Regions from separate parts of the Homo sapiens genome. Here region 1 is linked to region 2. Evidence: fine-mapped expression QTL. A gene starts in region 2. The other region holds a variant in brackets. All regions are shown on one strand. Distances are between the middles of the regions.

Region 1 (16,887 bases), 190 kb before region 2:
TACTTCTTGAATGATACTCCTGCAACTGCTCAGTGAAACAAGATAATTATACTTGCAAAATCTAAACTCAAAACTAAACCAACAAAACATGGGTGGCTTAAATTCAGGGTTTCTCAAACTTGGGACTATCAAACATTGGGTAGATAATTCTTTGTTATTGGAGGGGGTTGTTCTGACACAGACAGAAAACGGAAATACTGGGTAGAAGAGGGCAGTTCCCTGGCAAAGGCCTCACCCTCAAGCCTGGAAACTCGAGGCCCTAAATGGGAACAGGCACTCCTGTTTTCATGCCCAAAAGTTTCCATACGGCCCACCACACCCCCTTATCCTGTACCTATATAGACCGCAATCCACAGCTCCATAAGGAGAAAAGAAGAGCAGAACAGCAGAATGGCACAGCAGGGAAGGAAGAAGAGGAGCATCAGAACGCCAATAGGAGTTCGGCTGGGGTGGTAGGAAAGGAGATTGGCCACTGGATGGCTAAAGTCTAGGGAAAGATCATCTTCCCACTCCATACCCTTTCCAGCTCCCCATACAGCTCACTGAGAGCCACCTCCACCAGTCAATAAAACCCCCACATTCACCATCTTCAAGTCTGTGTGTGACCTGATTCTTCCTGGATGCCAGACAAGGACCTGCGTACTAAGAGGGCACTGAGCTGGTTAACGCTTAAGCTGTCTGCAGACAGCAAAGCTAAAAGTGGACTGTAACACACACACACACACGCACACTTGGGTTTTCGGAGTTGCAGGCTACCACCTCTGGATGTTGTCATGGGGCTGGAGCCCAGGGGTATTTGCCCTGGCTCCTGCACCTACCTGTCTGCATGCTCACCCTCCCATAAGGGGCTTGAGCACTTGTGGATGAGTCACACCCCTGTCGCATATCCTGCGGGGTGAGGGGGGGCGGGTCAGGTAACTCTTCAGCATTTCAGTTCTACGTACTGCAGAACTTAGCAACAGCCTTGGCTCCCACCCATTACTGCCAGCAGCACTTCCCTGTCCTGTAATGACAATGCTGGCGGGAAGGGGCGAGGAGCAGGGCAAAATAGTACCCAGTTGAGAACCACTATTAAACAAAGATCCTTCCTCCTCTTTGTCTGTATGTAAAAGTTACCTCAACTTAATTCACACAATGACATAAAGCCATTTTGAATAAGGTTAAGAAACTCATCAGGTTTCTTGCAGCTCAGTAAGACAATTGTGGGGATGAAATCAACTCTTGTTAAGTTCAAAGAAAGTCATAAATAATATCTGAATAGTTTCTATACCAAAAGCTTTCCTTTTCTATGTGTTTTATTTTAAAGTACTTTATTCCAAGGAGACACCTCCAGAAAATCAGATGATTAATATGATGTTCACACACAATGCACATGCGAAAAAGAAAATAAAGATAAAACTGCACCACAGCTGTTTTAAAGTCTGTCATAGGTAATTTCACCTTGCAAGGGTTCATGCAAAAATTAATTAAAGTGGCTAGGATATACACAGGGAAGACTTGAAGGCTTGGGGTGACTCAGGCCCTTCGGGGGCTGGAATCATCTTAAGGGTCACTGATTCATGAGTTTAGTAGTTAATGCTGGCTGTCAACTGGGATCTCAGATGGGGAAAATGAGGCCTACTTCTTATGGATTTATGGGCTTCCTTATAGTATGGTGGCTGGTTTCCAAGTACAAGTGTCCTTAGAGAACCAGGTGGAAGCTCTATCTTATAATCGAGACTTGGGAAATCATAAACTATCAGCAAATTTGCCCAGTTTCAAAGGGAAGGAATATAGACCCAACCTGCCAATAAGGAAGAATGTCAAAATCACATTTTTAAGAAGAGCATGTGTGCCAGGCGTGGTGGCTCACACCTGTAATCCCAGTACTTTGGGAGGCTGAGGCGGGCCGATTGCCTGAGCTTGGGAGTTCAAGACGAGCCTGGGCAACATGGCAAAAGTTCTTCTCTACAAAAAATATGAAAATTAGCCAGGTGTGGTGGTGTGCACCTGTAGTCCCTGCTACTTGGAGGGCTGAGGTGGGAGGATGGCTTGAGCCCATCAGATAGAGGTTGCAGTGAGCCAGATCACACTACTGCACTCCAAACTGGGTGAGAAAATAAGATTCTGCCTCAAAAAAAAAAAAAAAAAAAAAAAGAAGAGCATGTGGAATAGGAGATATTATTATGGCTATTCTTGGGAAATAAAATCTACCATGGGACTCTTATTTAAAATCAGATAATCAAACAAAATGTCCAGTAAAAAAATGTGTGAGAGAGGGAAATATGAACAAGCCATTCATCAAACAAAAAAATATCAATGAGCTATAAACATCTAAAAAATTCTTAGTCTCACTCATAATTAAGAAAAAGTACATTAAACAACAAAACACTGCTTTCTACTTATCCCATTGATCAGACTGTAGGATGACTCATGAACCACTCCTGAGCACATAAATTGGCAATTTGGTATAATCTATCACTATTTCAAAAACACATATCCTTCAGCCCAGCATATCTACTTCTAAGAATTTTTCCTACAGACTTACAAACTTTTAGAAGTACATAAAGACAGCACTTGATGTTGTTTACTGAAGCGCTGCTTATAATAACTGAAAAATGGAAACAATCTCAATGTCTTTCAAGAGTAGTTTCTCATTTTGGCCTCAAGGCCCTTAATATTTTTACATTTAAAAGTTATTGGTGATCTCAAGAAGTATTTGCTTATATGGGTTAAATCTACCAATATTTACTGGATCAGAAATTAGAAAATTCAAAAATACTTATCAACTCACTTTAAAATATCAATAAATCCATTACATGTTAATATAATTTTTATAAATAACTATTTTTCAAAATAAAAATATCTCTTTAGTGAGAAAAATGGCACTGCTTTACATACTTGGAAATCTAATGTGTGGCTTAAATGAAAGCCGGATTCTCGTATCTATTTCTGCATTCAATCTGTTGCATTATGTGTTTTGGTTAAAGTAAAGAAAATCCAGTCTTTCTCAGATATGCAGCTGGAAAATGGAGTAGTATTTAACAGCCTTTGCTGACCATTTTGGATATTCTTCTTTGAAACTACACTGAAACTCACAAATAGTAGTTTCTTAAAAGAACTCTGAAACCATATCAATAGACCCCCATTCTCTGTCACATTAAAATCCGTTGGCCTGTCTTACTCTCTGAATAAATCTTTACCTTTGAATGATTTTTTTAACATGTACTCACAGATCGTTTGGAAAATACTGGTTCACTGAATTATGCAGTTCTTCATTTAAGAAAAATCAAGCACCAGAACAGAATGTAACGTAATTTTAACATTTAAAATACATATAGATCATATATTTTATGTATGTATATAAAATATTTGGAAGGACTTATCGCATAATGTTAGTAAAGGTTACCTAGGGGAATGTTATTTCACAACATATCATTCATTTTGTGGTTTTTAGTATAGGTTACTTTTATAATGAAAAATCAATTTCTTCAAAATGGCAACTTCCACATACAGAACAATTCTTCAAAAAGTTTACTTAATTTTTCTTCCCTTGAAAGACAAGTCCCTTATATTAAAAGACAGTAAGTACTACAATTTATTGAGAAAAAGAAGCAGAAGAGAAAAACAGGAAATAGGAAAAACTGCCATGAAGGCAGTCTAATGTACCCTGGCATGTTACCTAAGTTACTAAAAAAGTTCTCCCAAATGAGACCACATTCTTCATTTACAAACCTGAAGATTTTATTTACCTTGAGCCAATACCATGTTGCCAACGTTTCCAAGTGAACAGGGGCAAAGTTACTGAATTCATCACAATTAAGGTTTTTAGTAACAATTCAAGTAAATAAGGGAGATACAGTGAGGCCGTCTGCTATGCAATACTCAAGAACAATACTGACGTCAGCAGGCAATTAATTTGAAATCTCAACTAAAAAATAACCATCACTATCATCACTTTATTTAGTTCCAAAGGCATTTTCAAGGGAATTTTCTTTTCCAGTGTCTTTGATTACTATTATGTAGCCTACTGTGAAGGATCTTAACCTCTATAATCTGAAACTATTTTTTGATTAACATTTTAGCTCTATCACAGGAAGAACTGCTACCTTAGGATGCCTGGTTATCAATTTGTATCTTTATTGCATCTCAGTTGGATTATTTCAATTCATTATTTCCTATCTTCTTGGATTGTTTTAATGTCACTTTCAACTCTGCACTTTTTAGGACCTGAATTACCCATGACCACAGTGTATTTCTAATACTTGAGATAAGTTTAACATTGAGCTTGTGGGCCTCATTTATAAGGAAAGCTATGTTTGGTTTACAATTTTGAAATATTTATAGGTAAAGTTATATGTCCTACAATGGCTTTTTGTATGTTTCAGTGTATCATCTAGAAATGAAAATAAGGATGTATCAACAGCAGTACAACAGTCAGTTAATCAAACTTAGAGAAGCAGGTAGAATGTGAGCAAAGCATAGATAAAAACAAGTACATCTTTCCATTTTAAGAAACTGGCCTGGTAATAAGTTAATGATATCTAACACTTTAAAAATACTATGTATGTACTGTTGATCAAAATACCCTAGAAGATAGGTTCTCAGAGGAAGTACTGATTATAAAGATCAATGGTTTTCACATGGTAAGCATTAAAAAATGTATGTGGAATGAATACAGAAGAAAAAAAAAGATTCATTTTGAAGATGCTAGTTCTATTGCCATTATATATTTAGTTGTGCAATGGTAGCAGGTAGGATTATTTGATTACTTGATCATTTGATTATTATCACTTGATTATTTGATTACTTAACTAAGAGTAAACAGAGAAATGCTTTTAATATTGTTAATTTTGTTAAGTCTTAAAAGAATGGAGTGTGAGGATTTGCACACATTTTTATAAACTGGGCCTTATGATAACCAAATTTGGTGCAAATATATGTGATATGTGATAACCAACACGTAAGTGACAACAAACCAGTGACAACCAAAAGACAGACACATGGATAAAAATTAATAGTAAAATTGCCTTCTCAATGCAAAATGAGAAGCAATAATTTATATTCACTATCTTTCAAACTGCTTTTCAATATATAGCTGGCTTTTTCCTATTATCTATCTACAAACTTTGTAAAGATCATCTTGTGCCAAAGGATAAAGAAAAAAACAAAATCATTTCAGTAATTTTTGAAGGAAAAAAGAAATAATCAGATGGCAAGCAATAAAGTAACAAATATGAGTACCTCTATGTTAACCAGGTTAACATAGCATTCAAGCCTATGCTTTTATTCACTCAAACAGTATGATAAAATATATCCAGTAATATTACAAGTACCTCATCTATGGCTGCCACTGTGGTTTGGTGGGCCAGAGGCAGCCGGTGGATGCCAACAACTGGTTGTTGCCTCACCCATGACTGCTGTTATTCCCTCCTGAGAGCTAGGCAGTGCTTCCCTAAATGGGACTGCTACAATTACAGTATCGCCAACAGCCACATCCAATGTGGTCCCAGGAGCAGGCGCCAGAAGCAGACCTACACATGTGACTACGAGTTGACCTCATATTTGCTGTAGCACCTGGACACACAACAGTTAGAACCTCATTTTCAGAAGCAACCCTTGCAGTCACCTGCTGGACATTAGGACACTGAATTATGTGCTCCCAGACCCCTGGGGACACCAACTAACATGGCAGTCTAATGAAGTGCCCATCACCTCACCCAGCATAAACTCAAACCAGGAAGACATTGGTGACTGGGAGGCCTAGGGGCAGGCCCAGCTCTTCTCCAGACTGCTCCACTAGAGATGTCAAAATGACACAATTGTGTTGTCAGCCCTACATCTCAGTTCTGTCTCTACACTGGTCTAGGAGCTCCTTGAGGGCAGGGACTGTGTCTCTCATTCATTCATTGGTCCATCCAGTCACTTATCCATTCAACAAACATTTGCTGAACACCTGATATACATCATACATGCTGTTAGGCACTAGGGAGCTTGTATCAATCATATATTTGGCCTTATTATAGGGATTTGATCTTCCATGACTGTGAGAACCAGTTAAACGTCTAGTCCATGGAAGGCTGTTTCTTTTTGTGCTGGTGATGCTATAGCCTGAAGTCATATGGCCCAAGGGACAGGGCAAAGTGAAACTGCAAGAATGAGTAGAACCTACAAGAACAGATGGGAACACCCTTTAGCCTCTCATCACTTCCAAGTCTTCAACTTTGCTGATGGGGTATCTTCTAAGAGAAGCCAATGCCTTCATTATTAAACTAGGCATGTGCCTGGCTCTAAAGTAAGAGAAGCTAGAGAGGATCTGGCAGGACGTGGAGTTGGTGCAGTTCCAGCTGCTTCCCCACACCAACATGGTGAGCCAGCAGACAAGTGACAACACACATTAGCTGCAACATCACACTCTGCTGACTTTCTGAATAAAAATCATATGAGGCTACACAGTGTATGAGTCCTACTGCATAACATTCCAGAAAAGACAAAACGATGGAGACAGTAAAAACACCAGGGGCTCAGGGGAGGGAGGGATGACTAGGCAGAGCACAGGATTTTGAAGGCAGTGAAACTCTTACGTATGATACTACAATGTTGGATACACATCGTTATACATTTATTAAGACCCATAGAATGTACAATACCAGAGTGAACCCTAACATAAACTATCAATTGTCAGTGATGATGTGTCAATGTAGGGTCATCAGCTGTAACAAATTTAACACTGTGGTACAGGATGTGGACAGTGGGGGAGGTTGCATCTATGTGGGGGACACGGCATATATGGGAATTAAAATGGCAAATGAGAAAACTCAGTGGGGAGAAAAGGGACAAAAGGGCTATTCCAGATGGAGGACTAGCATGTAATAGAGGCAGAAACCATATAACGTGTGGAGACAAGTCATTTGGTTTAGCCAGTGAAGGAGATAGAATGAGAATACAGGACAAAGTTTAAAAGGAGGCAGACTGCAGAGGTCTTTCTTAAAAGAGTGTCAAGGGGTTTAATTCTTATTCTAGTGGTTTTCAACCCTGGTTATATACCAAAAGAACATGTGAAGCTTTTAGAAAATATGTATGCCTGATTCCCAGGCCCCCAGATACAGTAAGTCTGAAATAGAGAGGGTGAGGGCTATAGCTTGTCCAAAGGTAAAAACAGCAAAGAATATGGTACTCTAGGATTTAAGAGGACAAAGTAAGGAAAAATTGTAGGGCTCCAGATAAAGTTCAAAATAGATCTACCAAAAGAAAAGGAATGATTAGTAAGGAAGAAGAGACTGTGATGAGAGAGAAATGTTGGAGTTCAAGGTTTGGGGTCAAGATGTGGCATGAGAGGCCAGGAGTGGTGGCTCATGCCTGTAATCCCAGCACTTTGGGAGGCCAAGGCGGGTGGATCACTTGAGGTCAGGAGTTCAGGAACAGCCTGGCCAACATGGTGAAACCCCGTCTCTAACCTAAAAATACAAAAATTATCCAGCAGTGGTGGTGCACACCTGTAATCCCAGCTACTTGGGAGGCTGAAGCAGGAGAATCGCTTGAACCCGGGAGGCAGAGGTTGCAGTGAGCTGAGATAGCAGGTTGCAGTGAGCTGAGATAGCACCACTGCACTCCAGCCTGGGTGACAGAGTAAGACTCTCCAAAAAAAAAAAAAAGAGATGTGGCATGATACTAGAAGTGATAAATGTTAACTGCGCAAGTTGAGAAAAGAAAAAAGGTCTCTCAACTCATAACCTGGGTGGACTGCATGTAAGCTGAATACTAAAAAGTATTTTCAACAATGCTATAATTTATCTTGATTACTGAATGCTATAAGGTAAGGATTCTCAAAGGGCAGTTCTGAAGCCACCAATATGATGATGAATTATTCTCATATTATTTGCAAAAGGAAAATGTATTTTATGCATACATTAAAAATTACTGATATTTAATTAAGAACAACACAGTACCTTATCAGTACCAATACAATTCTATCTTTATAGTAGTTCTGCTGAGGTTTTCTAGAAGCAAATGGGAGCAGGCAAAAGAATCAATCTACTGGTTCTCAGTGGTCAAAATCATCCAGAGAGAGTTTAAAAACTCCCACCCCAAGCCACTACCACAGGGTGCCCTGTTGACATTATATTTGGAATAAAGATTTCCAGAAAACCTTATGAAATAGTTTCAACTCATAACAGTGTCACTTTCCTTTTGATGATGTATTCTAAATTCTAACAAGTACAAGTCTAAAGAAAGCTTCTAGATCCAAAAGTTAGACAAAATGAAAGTTTTCAGAGTTGATGAGTAAAGGAGGGGAAAGCAGGGAGGGGAAAATGAGGGAGATATCTCTGTGCTCTAAGAGAAAAATGTTAGCTATGTGTAGGCTCTGATTGCAGGACAATTCCATCCTCACAGTGCAGCACTGTTCTCCATCCTTGAGCCAGTACAGTATTTGGCAAGAGCAGTACAGAAACAATAATCACTCTAAGACAGTACAAAAGCCATGCTCAGGATTTGTTATATTTGGCATGAAACTTAGGATGTACTTATAAATTCATCAAATAAAATGCAACTCAACCTAACGTATAGTTTACTTACATATGCTGGAGCCTAGGCAAAAGACTATGATGCCAAGCTTGCCAGAGCTGCAGTCTACACATACTTGATTGCATTAAAAAGCTAAGTAAAGCTGCAGATTATGTTTGCCATATATATGTTTCAATTTAAAACACATTCAAATGATAATGCAGCAGATGGGACTACAGGCGCATGCCACCACGCCCGGCTAATTTTTTTGTATTTTTAGTAGAGATGGGGTTTCACTGTGTTAGCCAGGGTGGTCTCGATCTCCTGACTTCGTGATCTGCCTATCTCGGCCTCCCGAAGTGCTGGGATTACAGGCGTGAGCCACCGTACCCGGCCGCACACATTTTAACTTCAGTGGTTTGTAATGAGACATAAGGGTTCTCCTTTTTTTTTTTTTTTTTTTTTTTTTTAAGACAGGGTCTCGTTCTGTTGTCTAGGCTGGAGTACCAGTGGCATGATTTTGGCTCACTGCAACCTCCGTCTCCCATGTTCAAGCAATCCTCCCACCTCAGCCTCCCAAGTAGCTGGGACTACAGATGCACGCCATCATGCCCAGCTAAATTTTTTTTTTTTTTAGAGGCAGGATTCACCTATGTTGCCCAGGCTGGTCTTGAACTCCTAGGCTCAAGCGATTTGCCCACCTCGGCCTCCCAAAGTACTGGGATTACAGGCATAAGCCACCACGCCTGGCCCAACTTTTCTCTTTCTGAATGAGCTCAACTGGTAACAGATTTGCTCATTAGCTTGATTCAGCCATTCTGCAATATACACATATTTTAAAACACCATGTTGTACACCACAGATACATACAGTTTTCATTTGCCCATTTAAAAAAAACCAAGTAATAATATGAAAAAATAGGGAGGGTGGAGTGGCTCACACCTGTAATGCCGGCACTTTGGAAGGCTGACAAGGGAGGATCTCTTGAGCCTAAGAGTTCGAGACCAGCCTAAGCAACAAAGTGGGACCCTGTCTCTACAAAACATGTAAAAATTAGCGTAGTGGCATGCACATGCGGTCTCAGCTACACAGGAAGCTGAGACAGGAAGGTTCTTTGAGCCCAGGAAGTTGAGGCTGAGTAAACCATGTTTGCACCCATTGCACTCCAACCTG[G/A]ACAACAGAGCAAGACTATCCCAAAAAAGTAAATAAAATAATAATAATAATAATAATAATAATACTTTGTTAGCTGGTATCATAGAGTTGTGAGAAAGCATTAAAATGCTCAAAACTAGAATTTGGAAATTACAACTTACAAGTGACTATGAGTCAGATTTCAAAAAATTACAAAAAACTAAAGATGTTAATAAATTAGCTGAAGTCTTTATAGTAAAGGTCATAAAATTATTATTCTACTAATTAGAATATACTGGACAGAAAGGAAACATATATTAAATGAAATGCTTGAGCTGCATGTGCTATTCTAAGTATTATTTCACCGAAATGAAAGGTAGAGAGAGAGGCTGAATGAAAAGGGAGATCAAAAGGCTGGACAGCTTAATAGCTTTCCTGAGTGTAAATTTCATCCTTATTTGAAATAAAATATAGAGAATTCTCAGAAACGTATGGAAAATTATTTGGCACATTTGATATAATATTAATCATCTGCCTTTCTGAACTACAATCACTACTGCTATTCTCTACCAAAGCAGCTGCTGAAACACAGACACCACATTTTATGGACTACTTTAAGACAACAATGACAGTAAGCGAATCAAATTTTCATTTATGTGACCTTGGAACTAAGCAGCTATATTTTTCTTCCTAGCAAATAATTTCATTTTAAAATGAGAAAAGCCTTTGCTAATTTTTTTGTAAAGAATAATTCATAACCATTTGCCAGCAAATGTTTACTCTCCCCCTTTGAAGAAACAACCAAGATATTGCTGGATAGTTCTCAAAAAATGTCTAACGTTATAGACAATACAGTTCAAGATTGACGTAATTACTGAAAAAATACATTAACTTATAATTCTAAGAGATAAGTGAAACAAATTTTCTTTGTTTAAAGTTGTTGGAAAATTAGCATGTATTCATAATTGGATTTATTAAATGTTATACAATACACAATCCCAGCTTCAGTCAAAAACTGCTGTGGTATCCTCAGCATATCTAAGAGCAGTGGGTATCCAAGAGCAAGACCAAGGTACTGGAAATCTTACTAGAGATGATAATATAAATCTATATTAAATATCTACTGTAGTAAGTAACTTAAAATCGGCCACTTAAAAAAATAATGGTTGTTTTATAAACCAATACTACATATAATTAGAATGATAAAGTGGGGGTGTGAGCAGTAGAAAGACAAATGTTAGGCTATACTTAGAGATTATTACTGTAGGTGCAAAAAAAAATACTTTCCACGTATTTAAGATACCACATAGGCCAGGCATGGTGGCTCACACCTGCAATCCCAGCACTTTGGGAGGCCAAGGTGGGCAGATCACCTGAGGTCAGGAGTTCAAGACCAGCTTGGCCAACATGGCAAAACCCCGTGCCCACTAAAAATACAAAAAAATTAGCCAGACATGGTGGCACACACTTGTAGTCCCAGCTACTCGGGAGGCTGAGGTATGGTTACTGCTTGAACCTGGGAGGCGGAGGTTGCAGAGAGCCGAGATCATACCACTGCACTCCAGCCTGGGTGATAGAGCGAGACTCCATTGCAAAACAAAACAAAACAAAACAACCACAAAACAGTTTAATTTCAAAGGAAAAATACTTCTCGAGATATATAGTCATGCATTGCTTAAAGATGAGCATACATTCTGAGAAATGCATTGTTAGGCAAGTTCCTTGTGTAAACATTATGGAGTGTGCTTACACAAACCTAGATGGTACAGCCTACAATACACCTAGGCTACATGGTATAACCTATTGCTCCTAGGCAACAAATCTGTACAGCATGTTACTGTAGCGAATACTGTAGGCAACTGTAACCAAGTAGTATCTGTGTATCTAAACACATCAAAACACATAAAAGGTACAGTAAAAATATGGTATCATTATCTTATCGGACCACTATCATATGCAGTGTGCTGTTGACCGAAATGTTGTGTTGCTGAGCAGTGCATGACTGCGCAGCAGGTCCTTGCTATCATCATTTCATTGTAACTTTGAAAAGGAAAACAAATGGATTTGGGCTGGGTCCACTGTCTGTGTGGAGTTTGCATGTTCTCTCCATGTCTGCGTGACTTTTCTCTGGGTACTCCAGTTTCCTCCCACATCCCAAAGCTGTGCACACTAGGTGAACTGGCGTGTTTAAATTGTTCCCATCTGAGTGTAAGTGTGTGCAAGTGCACCCTGTCAGGAAATGGTGTCCTGTCCAGGACTGGTTCCCGTCTTGCACCCTTAGCTGCTAGGACAGGCTCCAGCCACCCACTACCGTAAAGCAGAATAAGTGGGTTGCAAAAATGAAAGAATGAATGAATACAAATTATTGTCATACAAATGCATATAAATGCTGCTCTATGAAAGCTTTCAGCGAGCTCGCCAGATTTGTTCGTTTTTGAAGTGCATGGCAGTAGGAGGTGCTCCTTACAATTTTCACTTTGCAAACATTTATTCCTTGATTTAACCCACCATCACGACCATCATCACTCACTGATTCACCAAAAACAAGGGAAAATAATTTAACTTGTTTTCATTAATCTTTCTTAAACGTATATATAGCTCACACTTACTTCAATGTTAAATATTAGAAGTGTTTTGGATCTTTATTAAGAAGTTCGGTGATGTTTTTGTGACCAGAAATATGCTGTAGGAGCTTCTTGTTTAGATCAATTAGCCCATGGTACAACTAGGTTCATTATATGTTTTTCTGCTTCAAGTTACAGTTTCCAAGAAACTATCAATGATGTTAAATGAGGACTTATTATATGTACAAACATTGTTTTGGGGGAAGAAAAGTAATGATATTAAGAGTTTTAACAGTAATTTTTCAGTTCGAAGACCCTGGAAATATGCTAATCCAATTTCTGCCGCTTTTCACAGATGAGGCAAACGGATCTACAAAGACAAGGTGACTTGCTCAAGGTCACAAGTAATAGTAAAAAAGGACTAGAATTCAGGTCTTAAGAATCTTTGGATGTTGTCCTTTCCTCTACACTATGTGCTAGGGAGATGATACCTAGCATAAAAGCAAAGTAAAATGAGTTAAATTCAAACAGTTTAAAAGAAGGCTCTCAGAGCAGTGCAATGTTAGCTATAAGCTAAGGATTAGGCCCTTGAGAGCTAACGTGCTGTAATGCGAGGTGTAAATACAATGATCAGATTAAAATGACAGCTAACTCTTACAGAGTAATTACTAGGTATCCATAACCATTTTAATTATTTATTCTATCTATGAGGTAGATACAATTGTTTTCATTTTGCAAATGAGGAAAGAAGGTATAATAAAGTTAGTTAAATGATGAGGCCAGAAGACAAGAAAAGATTCCAAAAGAAAAGGGAAAAAATAGTTTCTTATGTACCTATTTTCTATTTATGGTAAAAATAAATATTTAAACATTCACGATTATATATAATATTAAAAGGCAAGATATTTTAGATATTTCCTTTTTTTTTGTTCTTTTCCCCTTATCAGATTCCTCTGGTGAGAATTAGTGGTTTTTACAACAAGTTAGTGGTTAACTTAAGGGCATTTTTATAAAAGCCTGTGATGCAGATCAGCAAAAGTTCATGTGAAGATCTATAAAATAATAGGGAATGCAAGGAAATTTCAGTACATCTCCTCAAAACAGAAGAATAAACATTTCAACTTAAATAAGGTTTGCAGGTCACACATACCTTCCATAAGTAAAACACTAAATCATCTGCTCTGCACTAAGATAAGCAACAGTTATTTCAGATGAAAAGTTAACCTCAACTTTCTGTACTAGGAATAAAATGTATCTGTTTTAGGGTACACCTTACATTAATTCTGTAACATGGGATAGATGGATAGACATATAGCTGGATGGACAAATAGACCATAGATATTTCTGAACCTACAGAAAATGATAATATATGGTTCTTAATTTTTACAAGCTACTTTTATAACTTACCATCTTTTTCCTCTTATCTTGTTCTGTGGGTGGTTCTTCATCTTCTGTTACTTTTGGTTCCTCAAGATGAGACATCAACATACAGCTATAATAATTTTTTAAAAAACATGTTTTAAATAAAAATGTCTATAATACACTTAAAAATAAGTCCTTAAAATCACTAAGAACATGAATAATTCTATGTTCTTAGTTTTTCACACCAAAATGTGAGAAAAAGACTAGATAATTTAAAATTTAACAAAATTTTTGAATTATGAAAAGATATCTCACTATAAAAAGGGCCACACTAAAACATTTTAGAGCATTTTACTTGGGCATTTCAGTTAGTAATTTATTTATACGCCACTTCTGAAACAATGAACCATCAGCTGACAAAGTAATGCATGTATACACTTTATATGTTATTTAAAAATGACATAAACTCTTAAAATACTTATTTTTCCCCATAATTTTCACATCTACAGAATTTTATACATGCAATAATTTAAATATCACAAACATATTAATTATGTAACAATCTACCTTGTGTTCCAAATGACATGACTGTGCTATGAGGAACTTGTCCTGATAGCACTTGTACCTTCTGGGTAGTTATAAATCATTTTATTTTGAATATCTGCACCATGCTCTTTACTATTAGCAGAGGTAACAGAAACAGTTTCCTGTTCAGTCAACAATGGTTCCAGGGAGACCAGAAATCAACACTGTCTAGTGAATCAAACTGATGGAACAATCCCACTGTTTCCTAACTTGTAACAGGAGAATTCAGTAATTTATCAGCATGATCATAGGTTCCTAACCAATAAACAGTGGCAAAGAAAGTTTGGGTTCTCTTGTTTTGTAGCAAGTACAGGTGAAGGACAATTCCTGACTCAGCTGTGTAAACAGCTTTTAATACAGAACTAACACAGGTGCGGATACCAGAAAACTTGATCAGGCTCATTCTTGCAGTGGAAACAAGTGTCTTTCGTTTCTATTTCCTACCATTAAAAAAGCAATGTTTGGAGTGACTGCCTCTGATCCAGTCAGTGCCCACTGGTGGGATCAAAGAGTAAGAACCTTAGGCTAGAAATCAGAAGTCCTGAAAAACGGCAGGAACTCAATCCCTAACTCACTGCATGGCCTTGACCTGGGGCTGCAATGCTTTTGTCTGCCATGATATAATACAGTGTAGTACAAGTAGCTGGCCAATGGACTCTGACACAAAGTAAGAAAATTACATTACTCTATCAACCCAAAAGCTATTTAATAAAGTGAAGTGTCTTAAAAAGGTCTACATCCCAGTTTGTATTTTAGAACTGAATAATAATATGGGGTTTCTTTACACTAGCCAATTTATGTCTGTTGCAGACCTGAATTCTAACTGCAATGACTATGGATCTGCATGAAAGCATGCTTTATTCTGCATCAAATTCTTCCACTGCATTCCAAAATCTGTTAACTTACTCATATAGTGAATGCTCTCTGTTCTGCCTCCCTAAATTAAAAGATTTATCATATTAAGACTGGGCATGGTGGCATACACCTGTAATCCCAGCACTTTGGGAGGCTGAGGTGGGTGAATCCCCTGAGGTCAGAAGCTCGAGACCAACCTGGACAACATGGTGAAGCCCCTTGTTTACTAAAAGAAAAAATACAAAAACTAGCCAGGCGTGGTGGCAGGCTCCTGTAATCTCAGCTACTTGGCAGGCTGAGATGGGAGAAATTGCCTGAACCCACGAGGTGGAGGTTGCAGTGAGCCAAGATCGTGCCACTGCACTCCAGACTGGGCAACAGAGCAAGATTCTGTCTCCCCCACCCCCAAAAAAAGAAGATTTATCACATTAATATTAGAGTATACTCTGGAGTTACATATATACAGATTTTACTTCTTTCACTGACCAAAAACTAGACAAATAACAGAATACTGAAAAGCCCAAAGCTAAAACTGTCCTGCAGGAAAATTTCCAACTAAAAGTCAAATCTCATTTTGTTGATAAAGATTAAAGATAGACAATCACGCTTTACATAAAAGATACGTAAGAATTAACAGATTTCTAATAAACTGAAGTGTGTAGACTGTGCATGCAGTAATAGTTATACTAATAAAACAGTAAACACAACAGTTTAAAATAGGAATGACTAACGTGAATATAAGTGGCCACTCCTCCATTCTAAACTCAAGGCAGAAATCACCGAATAGATCCAGGCACTCCAGCCTGCTAAATAAGAATCTTTCTCAAGAAGAAACTTCAACCAGCTAAACAGAACCAACAGGTGTTAGCATGAAAAAATGAAACCTTTTAAGTCATTTCTGGGTTTAAAGGTACTTGTAGTAATACTTTCATTTAATCTATATAAACTCTGCCCTAAGTAATTCAGCCATTTTACAGATGAGAAAAGGCTGAATTTACAAACATTCATTGAGCGCTGATAAACAGTATTTTTCCTCAAAATTTTTGTTGTCTAAATGAACTTTTCTCTACTTCAGGGTATCAAATTTGGATGCTTTAAAATTGCCCTTATTCTAGCACCTGAACAGAATAAGTGCAATTGTCTAAAAAAAGCTTAGTTCCACTCTACCTGGAGCCCATCTGTGTGCACAGGAGGGATAGTTGGGGCAAAGGCCAAGTATTCCAGTCATTTTCTTAATGTCCAATATCAGCGATTCTCAAACTTGAGTTTTCAGCTCAACCACTTGAAGGGCTTTGTTAAAGCACAGTTGGGCCCCACTCCCATAGTGTCTAATTCAGTAGAGTTTGATGGAGCCTGAGAATCTGCATGTCTCACAAGTTCCTCTGTGATGGTTTCTCATCATTTCCTCCGTCATGTTGATGCTAATGTTGTTGAGGAAGTTGTGGGGGACACACACTTTGTTAACCCCCATTCTATGTTAGGGCAAACCACCAAAACGCTTCCTACTTATATTTTTTTACCTCTGGCCTCCAATAAATTGTTTAATAATGATTTTTTTTATGGCTATGTAACTGACTTTCAGCTAGGCTGATATAAGAAATGATTTATGGGCCAGGTGCGGTGGGTCACACCTGTAATCCCAGCACTTTGGGAGTCTGTGGCAAGCAGATCACTTGAGGTCAGGAGTTCAAGACCAGCCTGGCCAACATAGTGAAACCCCATTTCTACTAAAAATACAATAATTAGCCAGGCGTGGTGGCACGTGCCTGTAATCCCAGCTACTCGGGAGGCTGAGATGAGAGAACTGCTTGAACCTGGTAGGCAGAGGTTGCAATGAGCCGAGATCACACCACTGCACTCCAGGCTGGGCAACAGGGCAAGACTCCATAAAAAAAAAAAAGAAAGA
Region 2 (16,887 bases):
GCCCAAGTCTACAAAGAGAAGAACAAGAGGCAGAAAATATATCACTGGGGAATCATGGATAGGAAATACAAGCAAACTGTTAAACTGCCCAGAGTCAAAAGCAAACTAGAGAAATACAATATGCCAAAGACAAGAAAGAAATTAATTTCTGTGAAGACCGGGGAAGAGTTCTACAATAATCAAAATAGAAAAGTGAGTATATTAGAAAACTTAAAGAAATGAAGTTTATTATTTTGAGAAACCAAAATCTTAAGGGCTGCTTGCCAAAAAAACAAACAAACAAACCTGAATCTGACCAAGCTTCTAGATCTTCTATCAATGTAACTAGAGAAGTATGTGGGAGGTAAGACGAAATGAAGTTGATAATTGTTAAAGCTGGATGATGGCTAGATGGGGGTTCATCATAAAATTCTGTCTACTTTTATGTATGCTTTTTAAAATGGCCGCTAACGGACACAGAGATCACTAAAGTTGCTGTTCATGGTAGACATCACCTCCTGAGGAAATCTTTAACTGCTGTAGACAGTAAAGCGCTCCTTCCTCCATGCTACTGTTCTGCATAGTACACACTTCTATTGCTGTACTTACTTCCTTGTTTACTTCTATCTCATCTCCAAATCATGAACTGTTTAAAGGAAAGAATGATGTTTTACTCATCTATAAATGCCATTACCTAGCACAGTGTGAAGGATGTTCAGTAAATGTATGATCAACTAAACAGTAACAGAAATTATGATTTCTCAGACAGAAGACAGAAAAGGTAAGAGACAGAGGTCCAAGAACAACAATATGGAATACAAATTTTATCAGAGTAAAGACAGAAATATCTACAAAAAACACTGCAAGAGTAAATAGTGTGCTGAATGGCTGAAAAAAATGAATGAATGTATGAACAGTCCATTCAGTATCTTCCTATACTGAAATGGAGCATATCAAGCCAACAAAATTTAATAATACTTTTCACTGGGAATATCTAACACCCTTTTTTCTAATCCTGCGCTCTCCAATCCCCTTTCTGATATTTTCTTGCTTTATCATTAGGCTTTTCCATATTTATTAATTCAATAAATATATACTGAACACCTGCAAATGCCAGACACTAGTCTAGGCACTTGAGATACATCGATTAACTAAAAAGACAAAAAAAAATCCAAGACTTGTGAAGCATATTTTATAGTGGGGAGACAAATAAATGGGAAACAAATAATAAATGGGTGAAGTATAAAGTATGTAAGAAGACAATAGACAGGGGAGGCAGACCTGTGAGAGGAAGACCTGTCCGAAAAACTTGAGTATTTCTGTCTCACCGGGAGTTTTTAGTAAAATGGCACTGATAAACTGCAATAAGTCTCTTGCCTGTTTGGTATATACAAGAGTTCCCCGTGACTAATCTCCCCCTAATAAGAAAAGTTATACATTATCCTAAACAATATTGACACCCCCTACCTGATCAGTGCCCAGCTGTGAGGTACCAACTACTGTCAACCATCACCCTCTGGTGTCTCCTTAGCTGAAAAACAAAAATACATGTCTGTACAAAACCCACTAAGGAACAGCAGTTATGCTTATTGCTTTTAAAGGTCCTTCTCTGGCTGGGCAGTGGCTCACACCTGTAATCCCAGCACTTTTGGAGGCCGAGGCAGGCAGATCACCTGAGGTCAGGAGTTTGAGACCAGCCTGGCCAACATGGTGAAACCCCATTTCTACTAAAAACACAAAAATTAGCTGAGCATGGTGGTGGGCACCTATAATCCCAGCTACTAGGGAGGCTGAGGCAGGAGAACTGCTTGAACCCAGGAGGTGGAGGTTGCAGTGAGCCAAGATGGTGTCACTGCACTCCAGCCTGGGCAACAAGCAAGATTCCATCTCAAAAAATAAATAAATAAAGTTCCTTCTTGGATATGAAAAAAAATAGGAAGGAAAAGCTATAAAACTGATTTTGATTAAGGCACTGAATAGAGATAACAACACAGCCTAGATTAAATTTAACAGACTATAATTTATAACTAGCAGTTAGGCAAAACTTTTTGCTGAGTGTAAGAGATCATCAGTCCTCTCTCCAAATATAGACATCTTCGATTGGTAGTTTCCATTTACTGGTTGAAGACATCACTGTCTATAAAGCTGTATCTTATAAGAATCTCATTCTTGCTATAAAGAGCTCAGCCTGTCATTGTATTTATAAAAACCCATTTGTTCAAACATGCATGTGCTGTATGCCAAGTAATAATCCCACAGTTAATCACTATTCTACATTTTATCATTAAAATAATTTTTCTCTCAGTTGTGAGTCCATATAAGTTAACAAGTAAATAAATATAATTTTCCTATCACCTTGGAGCCACCCATATCAGTTCTCTACACAGTTTAAGTATTTTGTTTTACTGACCAAGACACTGTGGCCAAAAGATAAGGAGATAAACTGACTTCTCTAAGGTCACAGGCTCATTAGTGACATTTCTAGAACTTTAAATGTAAGTCTCCTGTCCCCACCCAGTACTCCCGAAAGATTAAACACTTTTACTTTTGTTCAGTGCTGTCCATTAATATCTCAAGTGAAATTAACTGGGAATTTTTAGCTTTAGACTTGAGAAAGAACAAAAATACATCAAGTTCACAGCCTATCTGCCTAATGAATTATACTACATCAGAACTGAAGACTGAAATTGATGGAGTCATTGAAGATACCCTACACAAGGTTAACAAGGTGAAGATTAAGAGAAGAAATGTTATTAATACATAACTAAAACAAAGGTGTATTATACAGAATATACAAGGAACCCTTGTGAATCAACAAGACAAATATATAAGAAAAGTGAACAAAGGGTGTAAGCAGAAAATATATAGAAAAGAAGAGCTAAATGTTTAATTAATATCAGAAGAGATGCTATCTCACTGGTTATCAGGGATTTAAAATCCAAACAGTGAAAAACTACTTTATGATCAGACTAGCAAAAATTACAAAGTCCAAAAATATTCAATGCTGGCAAGAATGCATGGAAACAGAAACTCTTAAACACTGCTACTGGGAATATCTATTAATACAACTTTGGAGAGCTATCTAGCTGTCTCTAATGAAATTGAGTATATATTTTGTGTATTCTATGACCAGGACACACAGAGGGTCACACACCACATAAAAATGGCGGCTCACGCCTGTAATCCAACACTTTGGAAGGCTGAGGCGGGTGGATCACTTAGAGTGCAGGAGTTCAAGACCAGCCTGGGCAACATGGAGAAACCCCATCACTACTAAAAAAACAAAAAGTTAGCTGGGCATGGTGGGGCACACCTGTAGTCCCAGCTACTCAGGAGGCTGAGATGGGAGAATCACCTGAGCCCAGGAGGTCAAGGCTGCAGTGAGCCACGATCGTGCCACTGCACTCCAGCCTGGGTGACAGAGTGAGACCCTGTCTCAAAAAAAAAAAAAAAAAGTTTCAGTCAGATATGGACCACATATATACGACAGTGATCCCGTAAGATTTTAATGGAGCTTTAAAATTCCTATCACATAGTGACATCATAGCCATCCTAAGTCGTAGTAAATCACATTACTCACACGTTAGTGGTGATGCTGGTGTAAACTAACCTACTGCACTGCCATTTGTATAAAAGCAGAGCACATACAATTAGGTACAGTACATAACACTTGAAAGTGATAATAAGCAACTATGTTACTGGTTTATGCATTTACTACATTATACTTTTTTTTTTTTTTTTTTTGAGACGGAGCTTCACTCTTGTTGCCCAGGCTGGAGTGCAGTGGTACGATCTTGGCTCACTGAAACCTCCATCGCCCGGGTTCAAGCAATTCTCCTGCCTCAGCCTCCCAAGTAGCTGGGATTACAGGTGTGTGCCACCACGCCTGGCTAATTTTTGTATTTTTTTAGTAGAAACAGGGTATCACCATGTTGGCCAGGCTGGTCTCAATCTCCTGACCCCGTGATCCACCCGCCTTGGCCTCCCGAAGTGCTAAGATTACAGGCGTGAGCCACCACGCCCAGCCTACTTTTTTTAAGAGTTACGATCTCTGTCACCTGAGGTAGAGAGCAATGCCGGCATCATAATTCACTACAACGTTGAACTCTTGGGCTCAAGCAGTCATTCCACCTCAGCCTCCTGAATAGTTGAGACTTGGGACTACAGGGATGAGCCATCATGCCATGCTAATTTTTTTACTTTTTGTAGAGATGGGGTCTGGCTATGTTGCCCTGGCTGATTTCAAACCCCAGACCTCAAGCAATCCTCCCACCTCAGCTTCCCTAAACCCTGGGATTACAGAAGTGAGCCACCAAGCCCCACTACTATACTTCTTATCATAATTTTACAATGTACTACTCCTATTAAAAAAAAAAGTTAACTGTAAAACAGCCTCAGACAGGTCCTTCAGGAGATAATTCAGAAGAAGTCATTGCTATCATAGAAGATGACAGCTCCATGAATGTTATTGCCCCCGAAGACCTTCCAGTGAGACAAGATGTGGAGGTGGAAGACAGAGATATTGATGATCCTGACCTTGTGTGTACCTGAGTTAATGTGTGTGTTTGCGTCTGTTTTAAACAACGTAGAACTACACAATGTATTTGTGTTTTAAGCTAAGTGTTACTGCAACAGAGACAAAAAGTTTATAAACTAAAAGTTACAATAAGCTAAGATTATTGAAGAAAAAAATTTCTTAATAAATTTATTTTAGCCTAAGTGTACAATAATGCCCTAGGCCTTCACTTTCACTCACCACTCACTCACTGATTCATCCAAACCAATTTCCAGTCCTCCAAGCTCCATTCGAGGTAAGTGCCCTGTACAGATGTACCATTTTTTACTTCTACACTGTATTTTTACAGTACCTTTCTAAGTTTAGACATGTTTAAACACACAAATACTTACCATTTTGTGACAACTGCTTACAGTATTCAGTGCAGTAACATGCTGTACAGGCTTATAGCCTAGATACAATAAGCTATATACCACATAGCCCAAGTGTATAATAGGCTGTACCATCTAGGTTTGTTCATATGATGTTCATAGAACAACAAAATTGCCTAACGACCCATTTCTCAGGATGTATCCCAGCCTTAAGCAACTCGTGACTGTATCTTCTATGACCCAGCAGTTTCACACCTGGTGCTATAATCACAGAAACCCCTGCACAGGCATATAAGAATAAGGAGACAAAGGACTAGGTTGTCTGCATGACCTAGTTATCTATATTAACAGAGACTTGGAGACAATACGTGAACATCTTTAGTGAAATATGTATAAAATGTATCTTATCCCTTGTACAATTTGTTCCCTCTGGCTGGAAAGCTCTGGTCTCTAGATAAAAGCATGTCTTGCTCTTTGACAGCATTCCATTCTGCTCAAGTTGTCCTCTATTTAAAGAGGTCTCCACTAACTGCCAATCTAAAAGGGCTCACTCCTCAACCAAGAATCTCTATGTTCCCGATATCCTTAATTTTTCTGCATAATGCTATTAACTATATGAATGCTGTTCATAGCACTATACTGTTAATAGCTTACTGTACTGGAAACACTTACATTTTAAACTATATGATATGTGTTGGCTGGGTGCAGTGGCTCATGCCTGTAATCCCAATACTTTAGAAGGCCGAGGCAGGTGGATCACCTGAGGTCAGGAGTTTGAGATCAGCCTGACCAACATACTCTACTAAAAATACAAAATTAGCCAGGCATGGTGGCGCACGTCTGTAATCCCAGCTACTCAGGAGGCTGAGGCAGAAGAATCACTTGAACCCAGAAGGCGGAGGTCGCAGTGAGCCGAGATGGTGCCACTGCACTCCAGCTTGGTCAATAAGAGTGAAACTCTCTCTCAAAGAAAAAAAAAAAAAAACTAGGCAGGCGTGGGCATGGTAGTGCATGCCTGTAATCCCAGCTACTCGGAAAGCTGCAGCAGGAGAATCACTCGAACTTGGGAGGCAGAGGTTGCGGTGAGACGAGATTGCACCATTGCACTTTAGCCTGGGCTACGAGTGAAATTCTGTCTCAGAAATAAATAAATAAATAATGGCTAGTTGGAGAGTTGGAAATAAAATAATTAGATAGTTGGAGAGTTGGAGGAGGGGTTACACATAAGTTAATAAGGGGAAAGAATTAAGATTTTGGGCTTTTCCAACTGATTGGTGCCTGCATGGCTCATAGGAGGAAAACAATGTCAGGAAGGTTGAAATACACAACGTTTTTGACATGAATGTCAAGTATTTTAAGACAACTACATATGTCAGCGTTGAAGAGAGACCTGTGCTAAAAAGCCAGATTTGGGAGTCATCAAAATAGAGGCAATAGTTGAAGTCACAAATGAGACCATTCATGAAGAGTGTGCATTGAAGTCCTTATTTCCTAAACTACGTAGTTTGGATTTTTATCTGAAGGTTTTCAGAAGAGAGCAGGGTAGTGCCTCAGAGTCAAACATCTAAAGTGGTCAGAGAAAAGAGAAAAATAACCAACAAAAGACTGGCTAAAACCTAAGAAGGAAATAAGGAAAATATGGTGTCCCAGAAGTATAAGAAGAAAATTTCAAGAACGAACAAGTAGTTAAAATGGCAAATGATTAAACAGATTCCATTAGATTTAGCAACAAAGATATCAATGGTGATCACCACTACATCAAATTCAGTGACTGCTATGGACTGTCAGCCTTCAAAATACCAAAAAAAAAAAAAAAAAAAAAAAAAATTAACCAATAAGGAGGTGAAGAAAATGAATATAGAGAATTCTTTCAAGAAACTTAAAGGAAATAAGCTGGGCATGGTGGCACACACAAGTAGTACCAGCTACTCATGAGATTGAAGTGGCAGGATCACTTGAGCCCTGAAGTTTGAGGCCAGCCTAGGTAACAAGAGACCTTGTCTCTTAAAAAAAGGAGAAAAAAAAAAACTAAGAAAAATAATTATAGATAAAGCTGAAGAGGAATCTAAGAATCTAAGGTAAGGAGCGTATATTTCAGATAAGACTTGATTTGAGGCCAGGCACGGTGGCTCACCCATATAATTCCAATACACTTCAGGAGGCCAAGGCCAGTGGATCGCTTGAACCCAGGAGTTTGAGACAAGCCTGGGCAATGTGGCAAAACCCCATCTCTACAAAAAAAAATTCAAAAATTAGCCAAGCATGGTGGCCTGCGCCTCACCTGTGGTCCCAGCCACCAGAGAGGCTGAGGTGGAGGGATCGCTTGAGCCTGGGAGGCAGAAGTTGCAGTGAGCCAAGATAGCACCACTGCACTCAAGCCTGAGAAACAGAGTGAGTACTCTGTCTCAAAAAAAAAAAATAAAAAAAAAAAAAGATAATAAGAGACTTGGGTATGCTTAAATCCTTGTTAAGTTAGTACTAGTTGAAAAAGGAGTAACTGAATGTTATGGATTGAACTGTGTTCCTTAAAAATTCATGTTGAAGCCCTAACCCCCGAACCCTCAGTATTTGGAGATAAAGTTTTTAAGGTGATTAAGATAAGATGAGGTTGTTAGGGTAAGGCCCTAAACCAATATAACTGATGCCATTATAAGAAAAAGAAACAGCAGGCCAGTGCAGTGGCTCACGCCTGTAATCCCAGCACTTTGGGAGGCTGAGGCGGGCAGATCACCTGAGGTCAGGAGTTTGAGACCAGCCTGGACAACATGGTGAAACCCGTCTCTACTAAAAATATAAAAATTAGCCGGGCGTGGTGGTGAGCGCCTGTAATCCCAACTACTCAGGAGGCTGAGGCAGGAGAATCGCTTGAACCGGGAAGGCGGAGGTTGCAGTGACCTGAGAGCGGGCCACTGCACTCCAGCCTGGGAGACAAGAGCGAGGCTCCGTCTCAAAAAAAAAAAAAAAAAGAAAAGAAAAAAAAAGAAAACAGAAAGATACAGCAGAGGTGCATGTACACACAGGATGACCACGAGAAAAGGCAGCAAGAAGGTGGCCATCTGCAAGCCAAGGATGGAGGTCTTACAGGAAACCAATCTTATCTGCACCTTGATCTTAGACTTCCACTCTCCAGAACTGTGAGAAAAAAAATTCTCTTGTTTAAGCTACCCAATATAAGGTATTTTGTTGTGGCGGCCCTAGCAAACACATGAAGGAAATATTGCCCGTAAGGAGAAAAAACTCAGAATATCATTAGAGATGGACAGATAGAGGTCTTCATGTTTGCAGGTGAAACAGAACAGAAAGCAATGAAGTTCCCACTCAATGTATTTCATTTCCTCTATGAAGCAGAAGGGAACTTTATCCAGTAAAGAGTAAAGAGGGGGCCGGGCGTGGTGGCTCAAGCCTGTAATCCCAGCACTTTGGGAGGCTGAGGCAGGGGGATCACCTGAGGTCGAGAGTTCGAGACCAGCCTGACAAACATGGAGAAACCCCGTCTCTACTAAAAATACAAAATTAGCTGGGCATGGCGGTGCATGCCGGTAATCCCAGCTACTCAGGAGGCTGAGGCAGGAGAATCACTTGAACCCAGGAGGCGGAGGTTGCAGTGAATTGAGATCGCGCCACTGCACTCCAGCCTGGGCAAAAAGAGCAGAACTCCATCTCAAAAAAAAAAAAAAAAAAAAAGTAAAGACGGGGCCGGGCTCACTCCTGTAATCCCAGCACTTTGGGAGGCCAAGGTGGGTGGAGTTCAGGGAGGTCAGGAGTTCAAGACCAGTCTGGCCAAAATGGTGAAACCCTGTCTACTAAAAATACAAAAATTAGCCAGGCTTGGTGGCAGGCACCTGTAATCCTAGCTACTCTGGAGGCTGAGGCAGGAGAACCGCTTGAACCCGGGAGGCGGAAGATGCAGTGAGCAGAGATCACGCCACTGCACTCCAGCCTAGGTGACAGTGAGACCCCGCCTCAAAAAAAATAAAGAGGAAAGGTGGTGGGTTAATAGCCACCATGATAAACAGGAGCAGTTAGCAGGGACACACAGGATTGTTAGGCTGCCTGTACAGTACCCAATAGACGTTTGTTATTGAATGAACACCTAATTGTCATTCATGAATTTTAGTCCGTTTTTAATATAACAAGCTCTGACAGTAACCAGCAAAAGAAAAGCACTGGAATGAGTTGGAATCTGGGTTATAAATCTAGGTATGTGTGACCTTATGCAAGGCACTTACCTTTCTGGGCCTCAGTTTCATCAGACTGGATAATCAGCATAAGATCACCTCAGATTAAAATAAATGATGCTATAAATTTTTATACCGGTTTGTGCATTACCTCAGTGTTCTTCAACTGTTACCAACCAAAGTAGTGCATCTCAAGATTTATTGAACATTCCTTTCATCTAGATAACTTGTTAAAATTGCAGATTTTGATTCAGCAGCTCTGGATTGAGCCTGAGATCATGCATTTCTAATAAACTCCCAGGTGATGCTATATACCACAATTTGAGTAGCAAGGGTAAAGAACACTGATGCAACTTAAGCTCTACAAAGCTTATAACTGTGGACTTATCTGTAATAAGTCTGATAGTCAGCAAACCAAACACACTACAGACTCACACCAGCACTAAATGTGTTTTGCCATTCCTTAAACGCTCTGAAATTAACAGTCCCTATTTGAAGCTGATAAAGAAAGGAAAAAATATTACCATCAATAACACTAAATTAGAAGTGAGGTTACATACATACACACACACAGGTACAAATATATAACACAAAGGTCAAAATCCAAATAATCAAACATTACCTTACCCAAAATTTGAATATTTTTATTGCTGAGAAAAAAAAATTTTGTTTCTGGAAAAATCTTCAGTGTATTTTAATAGCCACATGCCTACAAGGATCATGCTGCATTCTGGTTTGATTCCAAATGCAAATATATTCAAACATCACAAAATCTAAAAATTGTTCTATTAATGATCAGATAATCTTTACATATTTGTTTAAAACCTCTAACATTACCACAGCCAAATGTGTTTGTGGTGAAAATTCTCTTTGGCCTTAGAAGTTCAACTAGGGCGGAGACCACCCTCCTACCCTGAGACTATAATATATGGCCACAAGCCACTACTATAATTAATTGTTTCTACTATACCCTGTGCTAGGTTACTGCAGAAACAGAGAAAATACCAGTCCCATCATAACCAAAAGGGAAAATGTTTCTACTTTCACCGAAATTTTCCTCAGTGATGAAAGATGTAATATGTGTCATGCAATGGATGTCTCCTATAGAAGAGTCACCCTGCCCTTAATCTGAAGCTCCTCTACTGAACAGAGAAGTTTGAAATAACATGAAAATGGAGGAAGAAAATTCCTATCCCAGGAGGGGGAAAAGCATTATGGCTACAAACTATTCTTCCTTCTGAAGAATAACCGAAATCTGAAGGGCACTACCGCGCTACAACTGAGCTCGTTTAAATTATGGAGGGGAGGAGGTATGTCAACTGCAACCTTGGCACTAGTAGGTAATTTACCAGTCCTTGCTATTTAGTCAAATCACTTTCAGATAGTACTTCTCTCATTCACCAACATGTCACAAAATAATAAAGAAAAAATGACACACGTAATAAGCAAAAGTAGTTTTGCTGAATCACAAATACCCCCAAATATAAATCTACAGGAGTCGCTGAGCTTGAGAATTGGCGGCCATACCTCTCCATGAAGCTCCTCTCTATAAACGGACAACTACCTTCACTTTTTCATTAAAAGCATGTAAGGGTCTAATGTTTAAAGCTATCACACTATTGCTATTAGCAACAAGGTCGCGTGCGCAGTAACAATGCACAACGGTCTTATACTCGAGATAACCACTTTATCTCAAAATTTGCACCACCTATCCCCCAAGGGCAAATGCATCACCCAGGTCCGCAACCGCGGTCACGATGGGTACACTCGCCTCTGCTCAGCCTAGCATACGGTCCCTCCCACCCCGCACCCTGATTGCTCCACTACCATGCTGCCCACTCCCGGGCTGCCTCGGCCAGCCCCCAGTTCCCCGGGTTCCTAAGGTTGCGCAAACAGCCAAGTCTGCAGGCCGCCCTTGCCTCGCTACCGTTATCCCTCATCTCCTGGTAGCCCCACTTTCCTCCCGCCTCTCGGGACTCGGGTGCCCAACCCACTCCCTTCCACTCCCGCGCGCTCGGTGGCTCTCGGGCCGGGGCCTCACCGTTTGGTTCGGTCGGGAATTGCCCGGCCCTCCCGCTCCCACTTCCCAACACGAAGTGGCGTCGGTTGGTCCCTCTCCCCACGCTGCCAGACCCCACGCCGCCGCCTACTGATGCCGAAAGCGGCTTCTAGGAACACGCCATGTTTGGCGTCGCAGCTCCAAACGACGCGGACGCGCGAAAACTACGTCACAGGAGACCAGCGCGCATGCGACCGGCAGAGAGAGAAGGCGATAGGCGAACGGCGGGAAGGGGAAGGAGGGGCTTTGTCTTTGAACCAAAAGGCGCGGGGTATCCAAATCAGTTGTGTGCGCTTGCGCAGTGCGCTTGCGCAGTATAAAGAGCCAGGAGTCCGGACTAGCCGGATCTGTCACCATGGAAACCATAGGTCTGGTTTCTCCGACTCCCAGGGAGCTCAATTGTTTCCTGCGTTGATTGAAGCTTCAATCAGAACCATTTCACGCTTTATATTCTAGATATCAATAGCGGATCCGTCACAGCAGAGAAGAGTTATTTAAAGAATCTTACTCCCATCAGTCCACCCTCCCTCCCGCAAATATTTATTTTTTAAGTTACCCAAATTGCTTGGCGCTTACTCCTGAGTAATAGCAAGAGTGGAAAAATGTAAAAGGACATAAATCCAGTTCTGCTTGCCTCTGCTAAAAGCTAGCATAGTCACCTAAATTTTCTTATCCTTAAAAAGAGAACTTACTCAGGCGCAGTGGCGCGCGCCTGTAGTCCCAGCTACTCCAGATATGGAGGCAGGAGGATCACTTGAGCCCAGGAATTCGAAGCCAACCTGGGACATATAGAGAGTTCACACACACACACACACACACACACACACACCCATTTCAAAAATAATAAGGGGTGGGCACAGTAGCTCACACCTGTAATCCCGGCACTTTGGGAGGCTGAGGCGGCCGGACCACGAAGTCCGAAGTTCGAGACCAGCCTGGCCAACATGATGAAACCCTGTCTCTACTAAAAATACAGTAATTAGCCTGGCGCGGTGGCGGGCGCCTGTAATCCCAGCTACTCAGGAGGCTGAGGCAGGGGAATCGCTTGAACCCTGGAGGCAGAGGTTGCAGTGAGCCAAGATTGCTCCACTGCACTCCAGCCTGGGCAACAGAGCGAGACTCCGTCTCAAAATAAATAAACAAATAAATAAATAAATAAATAAATAGACTCCGTCTCAAAATAAATAAATTAATTAAAAATACACACCAACTATATATTTCTTAAAAATAATAATAGTAAGGCCAGGCACAGTGGCTCACGCCTGTAATCCCAGCACTTTGGGAGGCCGAGGCGGGCAGATCACCTTAGGTCAGGAGTTCGAGACCAGCTTGACCAACAAGGAGAAACCCCATCTCTACTAAAAATATAAAAAATTAGCTGGGCATGATGGTGCACCCCTGTAATCCCAGCTACTCGGGAGGCTGAGGTAGGAGAATCGCTTGAACCCTGGGGGCAAAGGTTGCAGTGAGGCGAGATCGCGCCATTGCACTCCAGCCTGGGCAATAAGAGCAAAACTCCGTCTCAAAATAATAATAATAATAGTAAAAGAAGTTGTAAGGAAATAGAGTGTTCAAAAATATTAATAATAGAAAACCTTTATTGCTAATTTAGAATATTCCAGGTACAGTTTTAAGATCTTTATGGGAATTATCTATTTTAATCCTCAGAACAACCCTTATGAGGTAGGTATTTTCTTTATGTCCACTTCACAGATGAAGAAACTGAAGCACAGAGAAGTCAAGTAGCCCACCTAACGTCAAACAGCTAGTAAAAGGCCATGTTAGGATTTGAACCAAGCTCTGCATTCCAAGAATGTCGATCACACAAGGGCTGTTTTTTAAAGTAAAAAGATAAAATTACCTAAACAACCACCAATGACACAAATGATTAAATCACAATACATCCATACATAATAAAATACAAATTGACCATTTAAAATTATGTTGAGGTCGGGCACAGTGGCTCACACCTGTAATCACAGCACTTTGGGAGACCAAGACGGACAGGTCACCTGAGGTCAGGAGTTCAAGACCAGCTTGGCCAACATGGTGAAACCCTGTCTCTACTGAAACTACAAAAATTAGCCTGGCGTGGTGGCATGCGCTTGTAATCCCAGCTACTCAGGAGACTGAGACAGAAGAATCGCTTGAGGCCGGGAGGCGGAGGTTGCAGTGAGCCGAGTTCGCACCACTGCACTCCAGCCTAAGCGACAGAGCGAGACTCCATCTCAAGAAAAAATAAATAGGCCGGGCGCAGTGTCTCATGCCTGTAATTCCAGCACTTTGGGAGGCCGGGGCATGTGGATTGCTGGAGGTCAGGAGAGCGAGACCAGCCTGGCCAACATGGTGAAACCCTATCTCTACTAAAAATACAGAAATTTAGCTGGGCTTTGTGGCAGGCACCTGTAATCCCAGCTACTCGGGAGGCTGAGGCAGGAGAATTGCTGGAACCCAGGAGGCAGAGGTTGCAGTGAGCCGAGATCGTGCCACTGCACTCCAGCCTGGGCGGCAGAGGGAGACTCTGTCTCAAAAAAATATATATTAATTAATTAATTAAACAAAATAAAATTATCTTGAAGTGTATTTGTTGACATGTTTACACATGCACAATGCATTGTGAAAAAAGAGGGTTGCAAAACATTATGTTCAGAATGTCCCACTTTTGGAAATAAATAAATGCCAAAATGCTAGGAGGGTTTATCACTAGTTGGATGGGTATTGTGACCATGCTTTATTTTCTTTTTGCTTAACTGTATCTTCTGATTTTATTGAAAGATAGTACTTCTCAGGCTTGGAGAGGTGGCTCACACCTGTAATCCCAGCACTTTGGGAGGCTGAGGCAGGCGGATCACCTGAGGTCGGGAGTTCGAGGCCAGCCTGATCAACATGGAGAAACTCCGTCTCTACCCAAAATACAAAAATTAGCTGGGCGTGGTGGCACATGCCTGTAATCCTAGCTGCTCGGAAGGCTGAGGCAGGAGAATGGTTTGAACCCGGGAGGCAGAGGTTGCAGTGAGCCGAGACTGCACCATTGCACTCCAGCCTGGGGGCAACAGAGCAAAACTCTGTCTCAAAAAAAAATAAAAAACAAAGATAGTACTTCTCAAATTTTAAGTGTTCATAGAATCACATAGGGATCTTGTTAAAATACAGTTCATGATTCATTTAGTCTGAGGTGAGGCTCGAGGTTCTCCATTTCTAAACAAATTTAGATCTATGTTTCCTGGTAGGTAGAATAAAAGATGTCCATGTCCTAATCCCCAAAACCTGTGAATATGTTACTTTACAGAGCAAAAGGGATTTTGCCAATGTGATTAAATTATCCAGGATAATCTTACTATGGGAAGATTATGCTGGATTATCCTCTAGGTCCAATGTAATCAGAGGGGTCTTTATAAGAGGGACGCTGGAGTGTCCAAGACAAAGAAAATATGCCAGTATAATAGATGTCAGAGGGATGCCAGGGCCATGAGCCAAGGAATGCAGAAAGCCTATAGAAGCTGGAAAAGTCATGGAAACTGATTCTCTTCTACAGCCTCCAGAAGAAACTCAGACATGAAAACAATTTTAGACTTCTAACCTCCAGAACTCTAAATTAATAAATGTATCTTGTTTTAAGCCACTAATTAGGTTTGTGGTACTTTGCTGAAGCAGCAATAGAATATATGCTCAAAAGTTATAGGCTCTCTAATTTGCTACCCTTCATTTATTATTTTAACTTGCATAAAATTGAGTCTTGGATAACTCTACATTATAATACAGCTCATTAGATGCTTATAAATTAACATAATTCCTAGATTCATTTTTGTTTATAATAAACTTGAAACAAGTTTATTATTTCCATAAGGACTGATTATGTAAATCAGTCCTGGGAGGCAGAGGTTGCAGTGAGCAGAGATTGTGCCACTGCACTCCAGCCTGGGCAACAGAGCAAGACTCCGTCTCAAAAAATAAAAAAAGAAAATAATTTGTCAATTTATATTCAAAGACTAAAATGTTCACGCAGTTTGAGTAAATAATTCCATGCCTGGAAATCTATACTAGAGAACCAATTCAAAGTACTGAAAATATTTTCCAGGTATAAACTAAAATGTCTATGGCTCTATTTTTATAAGAACAATGGAATAGGCAGGATTTAGTAAACCCTTACGCATTCACAAGGTGAAAGTTTCTGTAGCAGTTTTCTTTCTTTCTTTTTTTTTTTTTTGAGACGGAGTCTCGCTCTGTCGCCCAGGCTGGAGTGCAGTGGCCCGATCTCAGCTCACTGCAAGCTCCGCCTTCCGGGTTCACGCCGTTCTGCTGATCTCGTGATCCGCCCCGCCTCGGCCTCCCAAAGTGCTGGGATTACAGGCGTGAGCCACCGCGCCCGGCCAACAGTTTTCAATATTAATTATTCAGAGTGTGTAATAACTTGGAAAAGGGCTTTTTTTTTCTTTTTTGCTTTTAGAGACAGGGTCTCTGGCTATGTTGCTCTGGCTGGTCTCAAACTCCTGGGCTCAAGTGTTCCTCCCATCTCAGTCTCCTTAATGAAGCTGGGATTAGGAGCATGCACCACTTTATAAAATAAAATATTTTTATTTATTTATACTATAAAATATTGTTTAAAATAAAAAATACATAAGTATAAATATACAATATAAAAATAGATTCTAGCCAGGTGTGGTAGCTCACACCTCTGATCTCAGCACTTCTGTAGGCTGAGGTGGGAGGATCACTTAAGGTCAAGAGTTCAAGATCAACCTAGGCAAAATGCCATCTCTACAAAAAATACTAAGATAAGCTGGGCATGGTAGCATGAACCTGTGGTCTCAGCTACTCTGGAGGCTGAGGTGGGAGGATCGCTTGAGGCCTGGACAGGGAGGTTGCAGTGAGCCATGATTGTGCCACTGCACTCCAGCCTAGGCAACAGAGCAGGACCCTATCTCAAAAATAAATAAATAGTAAAAATAAAAATAGACTCTAACCCACAAATAGAATTCTATGTACCCTAATAATTTGGTTTTTATTGTATTTGGAAACCTTCTAAAAGCTTTATTTTGCAACATGATATACATTATTTTATGATGTTAAAATAATTAATAGAGAGGCCATTAGACTGAGGCTGCTCCAGCACCCTGGGTTCCTACAGAAGCAAACCAAAACCCAACTCAGTGTATTTTATTTGCCATGCTTCCACATTCACCCTATAAAAGCCTTTCTTTGGTGCGCCTTTAACAGAGTCCCAAACTGATTCATGAATCACTGTCTGCTCAAATAAACATTTTAAGATTTTACTGTGCCTTAGTTTCTCTTTTAACAATGGTAATGATGTGGAAACATTTATCTGACAAATGTTTTTGAGAGGTATCAATTATGTAATATTCACTGACAAGGTTTACACCTATGCTGGTATTAAACAGAGACCATAATCATCTTCTTTAAATAATTGTATTAATCTAACATAGTCTTTATGATTATCTAAAAATATTTAGATCATTCTTTTTTGTTTGTTTGTTTTTGTTTTTGAGACAGGGTCTCACTCTGTTGCCCAGACTGGAGTGCAGTGGCGCAATCTCAGCTCACCGCAACCTCTGCCTCCTGCCTCAGCCTCCAGAGTAGCTGGGATTACAGGTGCACACCACCATACCCAGCTAATGTTTGTATTTTTAGTAGAGACAGGGTTTCACTATGTTGACCAGGCTGGTTTCGAACTCCTGACCTCAAATGATCCACCCGCCTTGGCCTCCCAAAGTGCTGGGATTATAGGCGTGAGTCACCATGCCCAGCCACATATTTAGATCATTC

The links.
Region 1: its variant is fine-mapped to the expression of IPO11 in whole blood (TOPMed, PIP above 0.99).

The regions. Positions count from the first base shown.
Region 1 is chr5:62,598,548-62,615,434 of GRCh38, reverse strand. IPO11 (importin 11) reads right to left here. Exons shown (of 30, transcript NM_016338.5): 29 at 13,587-13,671. IPO11-LRRC70 (IPO11-LRRC70 readthrough) reads right to left here. Exons shown (of 4, transcript NR_073584.1): 3 at 13,587-13,671. Among named protein-coding and RNA genes, the nearest start is that of LRRC70, 28 kb to the right of the region's middle. RefSeq lists a silencer at 5,291-5,409. The variant G/A (reference allele first, on the strand shown) is at 9,658.
Region 2 is chr5:62,407,128-62,424,014 of GRCh38, reverse strand. IPO11 (importin 11) reads right to left here and starts at 11,252. Exons shown (of 30, transcript NM_016338.5): 1 at 11,086-11,252. RefSeq lists a silencer at 10,762-10,811 and an enhancer at 11,142-11,331.